Regions from separate parts of the Homo sapiens genome. Here region 1 is linked to region 2. The links come from fine-mapping of genetic effects on gene expression. Tissue or cell type: subcutaneous fat. Region 2 holds a variant in brackets; the other region holds the start of a gene. All regions are shown on one strand. Distances are from middle to middle.

Region 1 (8,184 bases), 260 kb before region 2:
GCAGCAGAGGAGAGCTCTACTTTAATTGAGGTTTCCCTGTATGATCCTTGTTTGCCACCCCTCCTTCTCCTATCTCTGCTCCAGAGTCTGCATCCCCCCTCTGCATTGCCCAATACAAAGTAGGCCCTTATTTACTAACTGTGGGATGCATGCTTGCATGCATTTGTGAAACAAACTCTCCCCTGGAAGGCAAGTTTGAATCTCAGGAGCTGGAGTTGATTCTTGAGTATCACTGTCATCTTACCTGGTGCCTCCAACTCTAGAACTTTACTGGGCTTTGACCAGCCTGTCTCCTTCCAGTAGCAGCACCGGTAAAGACCTGCATTGGACTCAGTAAGGGCACCTATAAGGAATGAAACTTGGAAGGTCTTGTGGGAAGGGCGGATCCAGGTCATCTGTGTCTTATCCTTCAGCAGCAGGAACTTGCTTGATATCCGAGAGGGGCTTCGGCACCAAAGCGTGATGTTCTCCCAAGGGGCCTGGGGGTAGTTGGACTCTATCCACAACTCTGGTTGAGGGTCCATCACTGTTATTCCCAAAGATCAAAAAGATATGAGCAGTCCAACCCTCTCCCTCCCATAACATGTCCCACAATGTCCCTTAAAATTAGCCCGGACCCAGATCCCTCATTTTGTCTTCCCTTGGGGACAGGAGTGTGCTCCTGTGGGGCATCGTATAAGAACCCCAAGATATTTTGTCAAGGGGTCCAAATGAATTGGAGAATAAAGTCTGATGGTCTCTTTTCCATCTGAGATAAAGCTTTTTCACCATGCCATAGGAAACCAAGTCCTCTGATTCCCAATCAGCCCAATCTATCTCTGGAATCTCAAGGCATTATGTCCAAGGTCATGGAGACACGCCAGCATCTTGGATCCTTTAGGAAGGAGGTGCCTGAGAGGGCAGGACTCACTTACCTATTGATGTCATACCCAGACTCATCCCTGAAAAGAGAGATTATGGTAAAGGAGAGCTCCCTTGTTGTCTCCATCCTGTGCTCAAACCTCAATACTTTCCTCTCCCACCCCTAATGAGTGGGTACCTATGACAGGGTCACTTGCCCCTCACCCCTTCCTTGTACTCACGAATGCAAAAGAGCAAAACAGTGAATGTCTTCAGCATGGTGGCCCCCTCCCCTGGTCTGTCCAGGGTCATGGGGCCTCTGGTGCTGGCTGTGTGCTCTGAGTCTTGAAGAATTTTTCTCCTCAGCAGGTGGTGGGATCTAAAAGCAGAATTGTTTTTACTCAGAGGACTTGTCCTGCTCCTTAAAGTTTAGTTTAGATGGCTAAATTGCACTTGACAACCCTACATTGTACTTCCTCACAGGCATGCAGGGTATTACAAGGTCACCTGCTGCTTCCTCTCCTTGCTCCTTTCCCTCACTTCCCTATCCTGCTCAAGGTCTTTGTTGGTATCAAAGATGTCAGATTTGTTGAAATATGGATTTGTCTCTGGGATCTCAGAAGCCCAGAATAGCCTGCAGAAGCTCCACAGGATGGGGGAGATGGGAGGTGCAGAGTCACCTTTTCAGATATGCATATATATATATATACGTATGTTTATATACGTATATATATGTGTATATACATGTATATATATGTGTGTATATATACGTATATATGTGTGTATATATATACGTATATATGTGTGTGTGTGTGTATATATATATATAGAGAGAGAGAGAGAGTCCTCCAACAACTTAAGAGAGGGGGCATTACTACCATCCCCATTTTACTGATGAACAAACTGAGGCTTAGAGAGGTTATATAATTTGCCCAAAGTCAAAAGATATTAAATATTAGAGCCCAAATTAGAATCCATGTTTAACTCCAAGGCCTATGGATCTAAAACAATGATTTAAACTCCCAGAGGTACCCTTCACTCCCTCTTCACCCTCCCTTACCCCTCTCACTTGATCCCTTGGATATCCTTCCCTTCCATAGAATGCTTTAGATCCAATATTACTCTCATTCTTGTCTCCTACCCCTAAAAGCTCAATACCCCAGTGTCAAGCATGTGTTAGAAAATCAAGCTGCTTGAGTTAATTTACATAAGGTCTAAATGATTCTTTCGTTGCCCTTAACTTCTAAACAGTTTTGTTGATTGCCTCTAAGGGAAATGGAATTGTTTGAATCTCAGGAAATACGGCAAAGATATTTGAGTTCAGGGAGGCTTTCCATTCTCCCTGACCAAAGTCATTATTTACCATAGGCCTTGCATATACACAAGGTAGACTCTTGAGCTTTCATGCCTCTCTCCACCTCCCCCCACAGTAACCTTTCACCAAGGGAAGGTATGTCCCAGCCACGCAAACTCAAGCTAATTCTCTTCCACCAACTTTCTACTGGGAGTCTGAAGTCCTGGCTGACTCCAGCTGTTATTAAATCTTAGCTCAGAAGAGTGGGGAAGAGGCAGCTCCCAGAATAGAGAAAGGAACTGATTTTGCTTTTCCAGACTGACCTTGGACCTCAGCCTCAAACTTGCCCCAGTGCTAACACTGGGTAGGATGGAGGAGCAGGAAGAGGAGGATATTTCGTGTTCAAAATATCTGGACTGTAGGGAACAAGTGGACAGTGAGAAATCCAAGGAAGCATAGGTCCATTGTACATTTTTCACTTTGTATCAAAGGATTTTCAGATTACCCACTCTGAATTTTCCTTATCTGTAAAGTGGAGGAGTAATATCGACCTAACATTATTGTTGTGTTGGGTTAGAGATAATACATGTACAGTGCCAGGCACATAGTGAACATTACATTTTAAAAAGATGCTTATTTTTTCTTCTTTTCAAAGGGGGCATCCAACTGGTGTAGGGCCCTAAAGATGCCCTTTCCATCTCAGTTCCTACAGTCCCTTGCTCCCACTCCTCTCAGGGCCAGGCCAAAGCTTGGATGCTACCCTGTTGCTTTGTTACCCTGGGGCTTTGGGCCAGGAGTTTTTGGGGGAAGCCAGGTTCCACTGCCAAGGGAGAGGTTCAACCTGGGATTACACCCAGGAAATGCCATCTGAGGTTTCAGCCTTGCCACTTGGACCCCTAAACCAGGATCTTTGCCTACTGGGGGATTGAGGGGAGTCAGGGAAGCTGGGCTTTTTGGCATGGCTGACCCCTCCTCAATCACTAAGGAAATTGTACCATTTATATTCAGCCCAGATGATGAATCTTATACCGGGGGAACATGAGAACAGCCCCAAGCCTTGGGTTAGTTGGCCACGCCCATTTTGGCCTTTCACCCCACCCCCACCCCCAACTTTGGCTGCCTAGCCGTTTTACCCTTCCCTCCTACTCCACCCCAAGCACTTTCCCCACCCTTAGGCAGCGCCGCAGTGCTTTTGAGGGTGACATATCTGAAATGTCTAATGGCTCGCCCCCTGCATAGCTTTGAGGGCTCCAGGAATCAAAGGGGTTGGGCTCGGCGGGGTGCCGGGTACATGCTCAGCTGAGGGTTTGGAGGGAAGACTGAGAAGGAAAAGGGGAGATATCTACAGTGCCCAGAGATTCTCACCGAGGCAGGTCTGGGATCCGGGAAGGAAAGGAGAAAGGCAGGAATGAAGCGGGTGGGGGGACAGACTGGGGAGCAGTTTGATTTACGGCAATTAATTACAGCAAGGAGACTCTTTCGGGGTTTTGTTTAGGATCCGGTGGCCAGTATTTAATATTCAGCCACTGAACTATGCGCTCATTTGTAGGTACTTACGGTAGTTGAAGGCCCGCTCCGATGTTGGAGATTCTCCAGTGAGCTCCTCCAGATGCAGCAAACTGCCCGGCATGAGAAGAGCTGTCTAAGGACAGCCTCTTCGGCTCTGAGCCCCGCCTTCCTCTCTCCCCCGCCCGCCTGCCGGCCCGCCCCAACCTCCTCCCCTCCCTGCGCCGGGCTCGGGGAGCCCACCTACACCAACTCTGCCTGGCACCTGCAGTCCTCTGACGACGGGGATTTCTACGCCCCTCCCAGCTCCCCGCCTCTCTCCGGACTCCCTGCAGAGGTTGCTGGAGCCAAATTCAGGCCCCTGCCCCCTCGCCTGTCTCTCAGAGTTTCACTGGGTCACTGTATTGTGGGGGGGAGAAGGCCAGCTCTCAAGAAGATTTGTAGATCCTTCTCTCCAGCTCCCCAATACCTTTATCGGGATCTCAGATCTTCCCCTGCCCATTTTAACGCCCCATTTATGCATAAACATCACCACAGTTTAAGTGCCTACTGTGTGCCCCTGGGCCCTGGGATCCATTATTTCTCATCTTCAGAGCAACTCTGCAAAATAAGTGTTACTCCCCTCAGTTTTACAGATGAGGAAACGGAAACTCAGAGAGGGTTAAGTAACTTGGACAGCCTTCAAAGTCCATCTTGGGGTAAAAGCCCAGGCTTTAGAGACATACAAATGTATATTTTAGTCCACATTTTACATTCAATAGTTGTGTGACCTCAAGCAAGTGAGTAAACTCTCTGAGTCCCAGGTTCCCCAACAGTAAAGTAAAAAACAAACAAACAAACAAAAAACAGCAGAACCTATTTCACAAGGCCTCAATGGGATGATGTAAGTAAAACTAACAGCACAATAGGCCTAGCATGTAGTAGGTGCTCAATAAATGGTAGTGGTTGCTGCTGCTACCACTACTACTACTACTATTAATCTGTAAGCCCTTCCCCAAATGTCTTAGAGTAACATGATTTTAATAATATAGAGCAACCTTTCACAAATGTTGATTATGAAAGACTTTTTATAATGATAATGTATGAATAAGACACTAATCAAAGCTCCTGATATATAACATATGATGAGATTAAAGTATAGCATCCAATGGGCTCACAGACTAATTGATAAGAAATATCAACATGATAGACTAATTGGCTAAAAAATAGACAAATTTTTCTTTATGTACATTTCCTTTTTTTTAAGACAGTCTCACTCTGTCGCCCAGGCTGGCGTGCAGTGGTGCGATCTTGGCTCACTGCAACCTCCACCTCCCAGGTTCAAGCAATTCTCCTGCTTCAGCCTCCCGAGTAGCTAGGATTATAGGCGCGCACCACCACACCCAGCTAGTTTTTGTATTTTTTAGTAGAGACGGGGTCCCACCATGTTGGCCAAGCTGGTCTGGAGGCTCAGCCTCCTAAACTGCTGGGATTACAGGCGTGAGCTACCATGCCCAGCCTTTTATGTACATTTTCTACCTGCATAAAAGATTTCAAATTATCTAATGAAAAACACTTTAATTCAAGAACAAACTGTGTAAAAATAAAGTAACAGCTCTTTTACAGCCAAATTGATTATCATATCTTCATGCATCAGGTGATATCAATTGTGGCTTCCATTATAAACTATAGATTATTGTGTAATGAATAGAATAGGCATATGAATAAAAAGATGTGTTTCTGGGCAAGTTATTTAGCCTCCAAGCCTCAGTTTTCTTATTTGTAAAATGGGGATAATAATTGCACTTACTACAATGAAGGGTTTGGGGTAGGATTGAATGGAAACCTTCCTGTAAGCCACCACATAGCACCTAGGACACAGCAAGCAGCCATTGATTCAACACAAATGTTAAGTACTTTCTTTGTGTCAGGGATTGTTCTAGATGCTGACAGTTCAGAAAGGATGACAGTTTCTCTTCTTAAGGAGTTTGTAGTCTAAGGATAAATCATACTAGAGAAGAAGTAGGAGGCAGCCAGAGAAGGAGGAGCCTTGAGAATCAAAGAGGATTGCAATAGAAAAGATCATCAAGTAAGTCATGATAGTATGTGTTTGGATAATTGCAAGCACTTTGCTTGTACTGTGTGCCTAAACTAGGGAGCAGTAGCAGAGAAGGAGGGGAGGGTCAGAGTTCCCAAAACATTGAGAAGGCAACATTAGACAAACTTGATGGTTGTTTGGAAGACAACAGTAATAGTTATTATCTGTCAGGGTGAAAACATCCATGCCAATTTTCAAAACATTTACAGTATAGAAGAGCTTCAAGAAAGTGGAGCTTGAAGGATAGAGGTGAAGCACCAAGGTTCACAGGGTGTTGTGGGAAGCCTTTCTCCATAAGCGAGTCTAATGTAAGATGATGATATTTTTTAAACCTAACTCTGTTTTATATATCCCAAACAGGAGAAGCCCAGGGCAAACCTGATCCCTTCCCAGTGTTGTACTGATGTTGGCTAGCTCTGTATGGTTCAGGAGAACCCAATGTGCACATCTTATCTCATCCCAGCATTCAATGACATAATGGTAGTAGCTTGAAAGTGGCCATGGTCAGAGAATTTTCACCACAGTCAGGGAATTTTCACAACTGAAGAAGTAAATGCTACAAATCAAGTTTCTCCCAGCAACCTTCACATCTCTGGAGCTGTTTTTAAACATTTACTAGCAAACCACTTTTTTTCCAGTTTTATGTTTTAGGACAGTGATTTTTACTGGGAAACAGGAAGGTTTCCAAACTGCTCAAGGATCCTGTTAAGTTTCATACACTCTCAAGAAAGTTATGAGCACTGTGCTCCATTCCCCTGTCCCCAACCTCACTACTCTAGTAAGCCATCTGAGGACTGTGTCAGATCTCTGGAGAGGTCTGTGCATTCAAAGTTTGACTGTGTGTTTTAGCATCCCACCCCACTCCTCAGCCAGTCCCAGGCCCCATCCCTTTCTGCAATGGAGAAGCAATGTGGAGTATACCAGTGAGGAACTCAGCTGGGACTAAGCAAGTGGCGTTCTGGGGCAGGGAGGAGGTCCAACCAGACAGATTAGGTTCCAACGGCAAGACCTGATGAGGAGGGGGTTAGGCTTTGGAGGTGGGGAGGTCAAAGCTGCAAAGGAAAGCTGGGGCCAACTCACAGAGCTTGAATTTCAACTTATCTTTTGTCAAGCACTTTAATTATTAAGGGCAGAGTTTGGGGCACTAAGTCATTTCCAGAAGCTATAACTGAGGGCATTTTCAGGAGTGTGCAGGAAGCTTCCTAGAATAAACCAAATTCAAGTGATGAATTAGAACTAAAACTTATTTAATCAAAACACTCATAGTGGGGCATTAGACATTAGATAGAGGCCTGGATGATCAGGCTTCTGGGTGCTTGTCACAAAGCAAACCAACAATGTGAATACCTAGGTGATTTTAACAAGTTTAATGGGTGGAGGGAGAAAATGAGGATTTTTGTGTGTGTGTTTCAGTGTTAGCAGAATCACAAAGTTCTTTTTGGTTTATGTACCATTTACCAAAAAAGGTAATCTACTAGTCCACTGTCTCCAAATGACAATTCTCTTAGCATCACAATATGGCTTTTGTTTATACGAGGAACAGTGTGTATCTGAGTACATGGTGGGGGAGGGTGTTCAGAGACAGATATCCAAAATGCAGGAGAGCTCCGAAAGTGGGCTTCAAAGTGTTTCAGTATTCCCTTTTCCTGTGTTGGATGAAGTTGGTGGCTCCAGAATGAAAGGAGGTAGGCTCAGCCTCACTGCCTAGAGCAGGCAGGCACAGGTTCTATAAGCAGTTTAGGCCTGATCCAGGAAGGATGCTTCCAGATACCAGTGCCAGGAAAGCCTTTTTCTGTCTCAGAGTCTGACTTGCCCCCAGTGTGTCCAAATTGTAGGCATTTGCATGGTGGGGCAGGGGTGGGAATGGGTGTGTTGTGGTGGGGGGATGGGGGGGGAGGGGGGAATGCCGCTTGGGAAGGCACAACTGGTCTCTCTAATATTTATTTACTCGTAATCACTTGTCCAAAGGAAACTATAGAAGTCAATAATTTGGTTCTTTTATTCCTACGTATTGTATGATTAAACAATTATATGATTAAAATTAAGTAAAGATGGCTAAACTGCAAGAGCAACACAAATTAGCAATTTAAAAACTCATCATTGCAATATTACCAACTGTTTATAATCTGTTCCTAAAAACATCAGTTTACAGGCAATTATTTAAATATACATGCATCTCTTCCAATTCTACTTGTTTTGTGATCTAGGATATGGTCAGACTTTCTGAAAGATTCATGTACCCTTGACAGAAGATGAGGAAATACTTTCTCCATAAAAGTCTGTTAAGTTCATATAATTGATTGCTTTCAGGTAGACAATACAAATTATTTTTTTTCTTAATCTATCATATTTCAATGTCTCCCTATCCAACTCATGCTTAATTATTATCTTGCTGTTTTCATTTTCTCCCTCCCGTTTATCCCTCCTTCATTCTTTCCCATTTTCCTTTTTGAACTTTCCTTATCAT
Region 2 (8,184 bases):
CAAATAGCAAACACTTTCCTGGATATATGGATTTACCTTTGTTGTGCACCTAGCCTATCTGATAGGCTGAAAAAGGTAGACAATGTGACACAGGGATAGCTTACTAGAAGGCCATGACATGGAAGGGAAACGTTAGGAAATTTTCTTTCTTAAAGACTTTTAAGGGCCAGGAGCCGTGTCTTACGCCTGTAATCCCAGCACTTTGGGAGGCTGAGGCGGGCGGATCACCTGAGGTCAGGAGTTTGAGACCAGCCTGGCCAACATGGTGAAATCCCGTCTCTACTAAAAATACAAAAATTAGCTGGGCATGGTGTCGGGCACCTGTAATCCCAGCTGCTTGGGAGGCTGAGGCAGGAGAATCACTGGAACCCAGGAGACGGAGGTTGCAGTGAGCCAAGACTGCGCCACTGCACTCCAGCCTGGGTGACAGAGTGAGAATCTATCTAAAAAAAAAAAAAAAAAAAGATACTTTTTAGGACAAGACAAGTGAGAGAGTTTCCCATTTCAGAGATGATTAGGGATACTTCATTTCTTAGAAAACCGCTTCTGTAGCCTACATGTCTCTCCAACAAAGGAGAAAAATGTAACACATTTCAATACTCTGCGGAGTGAGTTCTTTTTTTCTTTATCTGAGGGAAGTCGAGAATCCTAGCTTGTTAAAACTAGACGGGACCTTAGAGATAATTTAGTTTAACAAGATTGGAAATAAAAATTCAGGCACGTAAGGGGAAGAAACTTGTCTAGAGACATAGCAAGTGAGTAGCGGAAGCTGCAAGGAGGGGATTAGAAAGAAAATGGGAGTTAGTCTCATGGAGAAACACATATACATCAAAGGGGTGCTTAGCATAGAAACAGTAATGTCAAGGGAAGAGGCAGATGGAAAAAGAGAGGTTGCCTTTCAATAAGGAACAGCAAAAGAACTCCATTCACACATTCCTTCAGCAAATAATTATTGAGCTCCTATCTAGGTACTATTCTATATTTTGGGCACACAGCAATGAAGAAAACAGAAAAACCCTGACCTCACTGAGCATACATTCTAGTTGATAGAGACAAGCAATAAACATAATTAATAGATAAGCTATACAGTATGCTAGATGTAGTTCTAAGGAGAAAATAATGCAGGAAAGGGGGATATAAAATTTCAATGGCTAGAAATGAACTCCCAGACGAGGTGACCCAGAAAGGATGTAATGCAATTTCAGGGGCTGGAGATGAATTCCTAGATGACGTGACCCAGGAAGGATACACTGAAAAGATGCCTTGTAAGTAAAAACCTGAGGGAATTGAGAAGGTGAGCTGTGCAAGGATCTGGGTTTCATAAATATGGAGCAGAAAGTTTTTACAAATATAGAACAGCAGGATCAAAGGCTCTGTGAAAGGGATGGGCTTTGAGTATTTGAGGAATGGTGAGGAGGCTAGTGTGACTGGAGCAAAGTGAGCAAGGGAAAGGGTGGTAGGAGATGCGTTCAGAGAGGAGGTGATTGGGAGGCAAACCATATAGGGCCTCGTAGGTCATAGTAAGGAGATTGGTGTTTAGAGAGGCTGAAATGAGAATCTATAGTTAACAATATGATACTGTATACTTAAAATTTTATTAAGAGAGTAGGTCTTATGTTAAGTGTTCTTATTACAAAGATAAAAGAGAGAAGGAGGAAACTTTTAGGGATGTTTGTTATATTTACGGCATTATTTATGGTGGCCGTTTCATGAGTATATACTTATCTTCAAACTCAAGATGTATACATAAAATATGTGTACCTTTTTGTATATCAGTCATACCTCAATAAAAATAGAATAAATTTTTTAATGGAAGAGTGACCTGATTTCACTTACAGTTCAACTGAATCATCTGAACTGGATGGGAAGAAGACTAGAAACAGGAAAACCAATGACGAAGTTACTGGAAAAATCCAGGTGAATGATGATGATGCCTTGGAATAAAGAATGGCAGTGCAGGTGGCAAGAGGAGTAGGTAGATTCTGAATAACAGCTCTGAATGCTTAGGACTTTATATATTCATTTACTACCTATTGGGTTCTTGTGATCCCCCAGGTACTGTTCTATGTTCTAGGAATACACCAGTAAACAGCAGACAAGGGCCCTGTTATTAAATTCACATTTGAGTGAAAGACAAATAATAAGCAAGTAATCAAATTATTAATATAACTTCAGGTATTAGAATGTGTTATAAAAAATGAAGCAGGGCTAGGGGAAAGAGATGGGTGAGGATGGGATAAGAGAGCCTTTTCAGTGAGGCTACGTACTCAGACCCTCTCCTTACCACCCACACTTTTAGAAACTTCATGTTCAGTTTTCATACTCCTAACTGGGGCTCAACGACAACAGAATAGAAAATGTAGGAGAAGCTAGAAATGTAACTTCAGCAGGGGATATTAGAAGAGGGTCCTCCCAGACCTCACTACTACATCTACATAATATCAGCTCAGGTCAAAGAGCTACCTTGCACCCACTCTATGTCAGGCACCGTGGTAAATTCTGGAACTATGGAAAAATGAAGGCATGCACAATCTAGGAGTGAGAGACATCCCAAACATAGACAATATTTTAGCTAAGACATGTGTCAGAAGGTACCCTGTTGGTTGAGATTAATAACTCAAGCTAACTGAGATTCAACCATGTCTACATATCAGATTTATCTTGGAAAATGACGTGAGAAAGTCAGGAAGATGGCCTACCTTTCCTGTCTTCTTAGTTAGGAAAAATTATTCAAGAAGACCTCTAGTGGAGGAGGGCTGGAGAAATTTTCATATAACTATTTTCAAAAAGATAAGGAACTTTCCATTTTCTTAGGATTGAGGGAGGATATCTAGCTTTGCCTCTGTTCCCATTATAGATATCTATTCCATTTGTGTCCCATTCTTCTGAAAAGGACAAAGATAATGATCCTGCACACCCTAATTCTTTCCACCTTTCTCACACCCTCCATCTTTATTCCCATTCTTTCAGGTAACACTAAGTAGCCAATTGGCATCCATTTAATGAATAGTGGCAAGAGGGAAAGATGGCCATGGACAATGTCACAGCAGTGTTTCAGTTTCTCCTTATTGGCATTTCTAACTATCCTCAATGGAGAGACACGTTTTTCACATTAGTGCTGATAATTTACCTCAGCACATTGTTGGGGAATGGATTTATGATCTTTCTTATTCACTTTGACCCCAACCTCCACACTCCAATCTACTTCTTCCTTAGTAACCTGTCTTTCTTAGACCTTTGTTATGGAACAGCTTCCATGCCCCAGGCTTTGGTGCATTGTTTCTCTACCCATCCCTACCTCTCTTATCCCCGATGTTTGGCTCAAACGAGTGTCTCCTTGGCTTTGGCCACAGCAGAGTGCCTCCTACTGGCTGCCATGGCCTATGACCGTGTGGTTGCTATCAGCAATCCCCTGCGTTATTCAGTGGTTATGAATGGCCCAGTATGTGTCTGCTTGGTTGCTACCTCATGGGGGACATCACTTGTGCTCACTGCCATGCTCATCCTATCCCTGAGGCTTCACTTCTGTGGGGCTAATGTCATCAACCATTTTGCCTGTGAGATTCTCTCCCT[C/G]ATTAAGCTGACCTGTTCTGATACCAGCCTCAATGAATTTATGATCCTCATCACCAGTATCTTCACCCTGCTGCTACCATTTGGGTTTGTTCTCCTCTCCTACATACGAATTGCTATGGCTATCATAAGGATTCGCTCACTCCAGGGCAGGCTCAAGGCCTTTACCACATGTGGCTCTCACCTGACCGTGGTGACAATCTTCTATGGGTCAGCCATCTCCATGTATATGAAAACTCAGTCCAAGTCCTACCCTGACCAGGACAAGTTTATCTCAGTGTTTTATGGAGCTTTGACACCCATGTTGAACCCCCTGATATATAGCCTGAGAAAAAAAGATGTTAAACGGGCAATAAGGAAAGTTATGTTGAAAAGGACATGAGCCTTCTTTGCTTCTAAACGTCTAAAATAACACAACGTCCCTGATGGAGAAAATGGTTTAAAGGATCTGACTTTATCTTTGGAAGTGATTGACATATGAGAAGCTTCAGGAAGTGCTCCCACCCCAAATATTATTCCTACTGAGACTTGAATTGCCATTAGAGGTATTATTTTTGCTCTTTCTTTACATAGAATATTGTTAGTGGCTACCCATTAGGTTACTCACCTTCAGGTAAATGAACTTATCAGAGTAATTTTCTCACTGACAGAAGAGACCTATACAGCAAGAGAATCTTCTGTAACTGTTGACAGCAGGTGAGGCATAACTGAAATTGGAAACTAAGACAAAGAATGGTATAATAAAAGGCCAGAAGACAAATGTCAGAAACTTTACAACTTTACTGAGGGTAAGCCCTGTTACGTAAGCACAATCTCCTTGTTTCACTTAATCTTGGAATCATGAGAAAAATTATCATAGCTATTTCCTACATTTGTGTAGAGTGTTTTATTTTTGCTTTTTGTTTTTCAAAACATCTTTCTAATCTATTAGTCTATTTTATATCCCTAATTTTCCTATGGAATTGGTAAAAACACCACCACAATTTCCCTCTGTATTAACAATGAGGAAACAGAGTAGACATTGAGACTCATCTAAAGTCATACATAATTGATAATGGAGTCAAAATTAGAATTTAGATCATATATATGCCACCTCCGAATTTGTAAAAGTAAGTCTGTAAAATTATTTAGAATCATAGAATTATAAATACAGCTACCATTTATTGAGAACTTATGATACGCTAGGGGTTGAGCAAAGCTCTCTATATCTATTATCACATAGAATTCACACAGTGGTTCAATGCCATGGCACTATTTTCCATCCATATTTAGAAGTGTGGAAACTGAGTGATTTGCCCATGGCCACAGAGCCAGTACTTAAATCTAGGTCTGGTTGATTCCAGATCCCACTTACTATATCTAAAGGCATAAGAAACCCTAGAGATGACTAATGTAGTGATATTTTAATCCACTTTATCATGACATAATTTGTATACAATAAACTTTGTCCAATTACAGTGTGCAATTCTATGAGTTTTGACAGATGCTCACAGCATCACCACAACAATCAGCTACCTAACAATTTCATCACCTACAGAAGTTTCCTTTTGCCTTCTTGTAACCCATCCCTTCCTCCCTCTACCCCCAATTCCAACCAGTGATCTGATTTCTTTCACTATATGTTAGTTTTTGTTTTTTTAAATATTGACTATAAATAAAATCATGCAGTCTGTACTCCTTTGTGTCTGGGTTCTCTCACTCAGCCTGCTCTTGAGATTCATCTATATTGTTGCATGTATCCGTAATTTGTTCCTTTTTATTGCTGAATAATATTTCATTGCACACATTTACCGCATCTTAAAACCCATTTTCTGTTGATGGACATAATGCAATGTTTTTCAAATCTTGATTTATATAGTTTTTAGGGACTCAATTGTGGTGCCTGGAGCCTGCTAATGGGGGGTCGTTTCCTGTGAGCTATTTCATTTGAAAAGGGAGTTCTAAAACTAAAAGGAACGGTTTTGATAAACAATGATCTATTACAGGTAACCGATTTTAGATGAGAAATCTAAGGCTCACTGAATGTGGAGTAAATTTCCCAAGATCATGAAACTGTTTGGAAGCAGATCTAGAACGAAGACCCAGATATCCTGTCTCCTGGTCTCACTTTACTTTGGGCCTCCACCACATATGATGAAGTCATCTCCCAAGAAGCCTTTTCTACCTGTTTGTGAGGAACCAGACACAAACAGGTAGAAAAAAATAAAATGCACAGTACCCAGCACTACTGAGCAAACAGATACTCAGTGTGTTCCTCTTACTGTGACTGCTGGGGGGCTGAAGAGACATTGTATGGTGTTGCAAAGGGAGTACCATGGATACAAGGAGACTGTCTTACGTGTTTACTAACTAAATGAAAAATAATTGAGGATGAATAAACTACTTATCAAAACAGCTTAATTTCAAAACAAGTGCAAGATTTATTCAAACCGTATACTTTTTTTTTAATTATTATACTTTAAGTTTTAGGGTACATGTGCACAATGTGCAGGTTAGTTACATATGTATACATGTACCATGCTGGTGTGCTGCACCCATTAACTCGTCATTTAGCATTAGGTATATCTCCTAATGCTATCCCTCCCCCCTCCCCCCACCCCACAACAGTCCCCACAGTGTGATGTTCCCCTTCCTGTGTCCATGTGTTCTCATTGTTCAATTCCCACCTATGAGTGAGAACATGCGGTGTTTGGTTTTTTGTCCTTGTGATAGTTTACTGAGAATGATTTCCAATTTCATCCATGTCCCTACAAAGGACATGAACTCATCATTTTTTATGGCTGCATAGTATTCCATGGTGTGTAAGTGCCACATTTTCTTAATCCAGTCTATCATTGTTGGACTTTTGGATTGGTTCCAAGTCTTTGCTATTGTGAATAGTGCTACAATAAACATATGTGTGCATGTGTCTGTATACATTTTTAAAGGTACATGGTACTCTTCATCTCTGAAATAATGTTTTAATATTGAGAAAGAAAAAAATTCAGAAAAAGGCAAATGAATTCAATCTTTAATTTATCCATTTAACAAACATTAGGTTTGTACTTTAAGGCAGGCACTATGCTAGGTATTAGGGTAAGTCTCATGCTTTGTGCAAAATGTTCCTTACTATCAAGATAAACCTTTCAAGCAAACATTGTGAAATAAACATAAACTGGCACAATCAATGAAATATTAAAAGAATCAAAGAGTGTCTTCGCACAGAGGAAAATTCAGAAATTAGGTGGAATATTAAGAGTATAGGTTTTAATGATTCTGCCTTTGGAGGGAAAAATATTTCACTCTCTATTACAGGTTGGTTTACAGCTTAAAATGGGATGCACATTTTCAATAATGGTCCCTCTACTACAAAATAGTATAGCTATGTCACTAGGTTCTTTCTCCCTTTATTGACTTGTTGGTATGGGCACAGCCTACAGACAGAGTGACATAGTGGAGTCTGGAGATGAAGGTTGTGGAATTGATTCTGCTACTAACAAGCTGTGTAACCTTAGTTATATCTCTCTCTGGCCTTTAAACTTGCTTATCAATATAACAGGAAGATTGTGTTTAGCTACCTAAAGACCTCTCTAGTTCTAACATTCTGCATCCGGGTGTTATTTTATATAGGGCTTGCTCTTATTTTCTTAAAAAATGCAAGCATATCATCAATTTACTCTGCAACTTGCTTTTTCCACTTGACAATATATCATGAACATTCCTCCAGATCAATATATATAGATCTATCTCTCTGACTTTAAATGTTAGCTTTGACTGAAAAAGAAGGCAAACACGGCAGCTAGTTAACACAGCTCTGGCCCTTCCAGCATTAACATTCAGTTTCTAGGCACTAACTCTAGAGGCTATCTAATTTTACATTGATATTAATTTATTTTAAAGATAAAAATGAACTCTGTGAGGGTGTTGTGAAATGAAATCAATGCTGGGCTTTTGAAAATTCCTGAGATTGAGTAGTGCTTCTCTGCCTGATCAATCACAAGGATCCTGTGAAACCTTCCACTGGACTCCTCCCTACTCCCCATCCCCAATGGCTGAGTAGTGAAGCTTACCTTGCTTCACCCTGGAAAGAAAGATGGAAAGACTGTGTTGAAACTAAGATGGTTCTGTCAAAAGTTGAGAAGAAAGTTTACAAACTGAAAAGCAGGCTCCAAATGATCATTTCCATGGAAATATTCATGGAGATTTCAGAAAAAGATACAGTGCCCCATTTATAGGATTTGGGTTTTCAGTTGAAGAGAGGCAGTGGAGTATAACTACTTAGAGCACAAGCCCTGGGGCAAAACTTGTTAGATTCAGTCCTTCCTTCTGCCACTTCTTCACTCAAGTTACCCCCTGCTTAGGTCTCTTCACCTGTAAAGTGTAGCACTCAGTTCGATCAGGCAAACAGAAACTACTCTATAGTTATTTCAGGAAGGCATTTAACACAGAGAATTAGGGGCCTACAAAGCCTTTGGAAGGGCTATGAGAGAAAAGGTAAGGGAACTACCAGCAAAATGAGACAGTTGTAGGAATTGCAGGAATCATGGGAAATTTTAGAGATTGTTAGGAAACTGCTGCTAATGACGTCACTGAAGCAGATGTTTCACAAGAGAATGCTCAGAAATCACTTAAATC

Alleles and levels. Positions count from the first base shown, and alleles are read on the strand shown. Sizes are in standard deviations (SD) of each study's normalised expression.
In carriers of allele G in region 2, the expression in subcutaneous fat of the gene that starts at base 3,784 in region 1 tends to be lower than with C alone (small effect, 0.17 SD a copy in GTEx).

Evidence for each region. PIP is the estimated chance that this variant, and not a neighbour inherited with it, causes the effect. A credible set is the group of variants that fine-mapping cannot tell apart.
Region 1: it holds the start of IGSF1, and the variant in region 2 is the best candidate, but not a certain one, in a credible set for the expression of IGSF1 in subcutaneous fat (GTEx, PIP 0.57).

What each region holds. Positions count from the first base shown.
Region 1 is chrX:131,285,523-131,293,706 of GRCh38, forward strand. It overlaps IGSF1 (immunoglobulin superfamily member 1), which reads right to left and starts at 3,784. Exons shown (of 20, transcript NM_001555.5): 1 at 3,692-3,784; 2 at 1,083-1,219; 3 at 915-941; 4 at 245-526. The coding sequence starts at 1,152. RefSeq lists an enhancer at 5,263-5,980.
Region 2 is chrX:131,541,049-131,549,232 of GRCh38, forward strand. It overlaps OR13H1 (olfactory receptor family 13 subfamily H member 1), which reads left to right and starts at 3,026. Exons shown (of 1, transcript NM_001004486.1): 1 at 3,026-3,952. The coding sequence starts at 3,026. The coding sequence ends at 3,952. The variant C/G (reference allele first, on the strand shown) is at 3,574.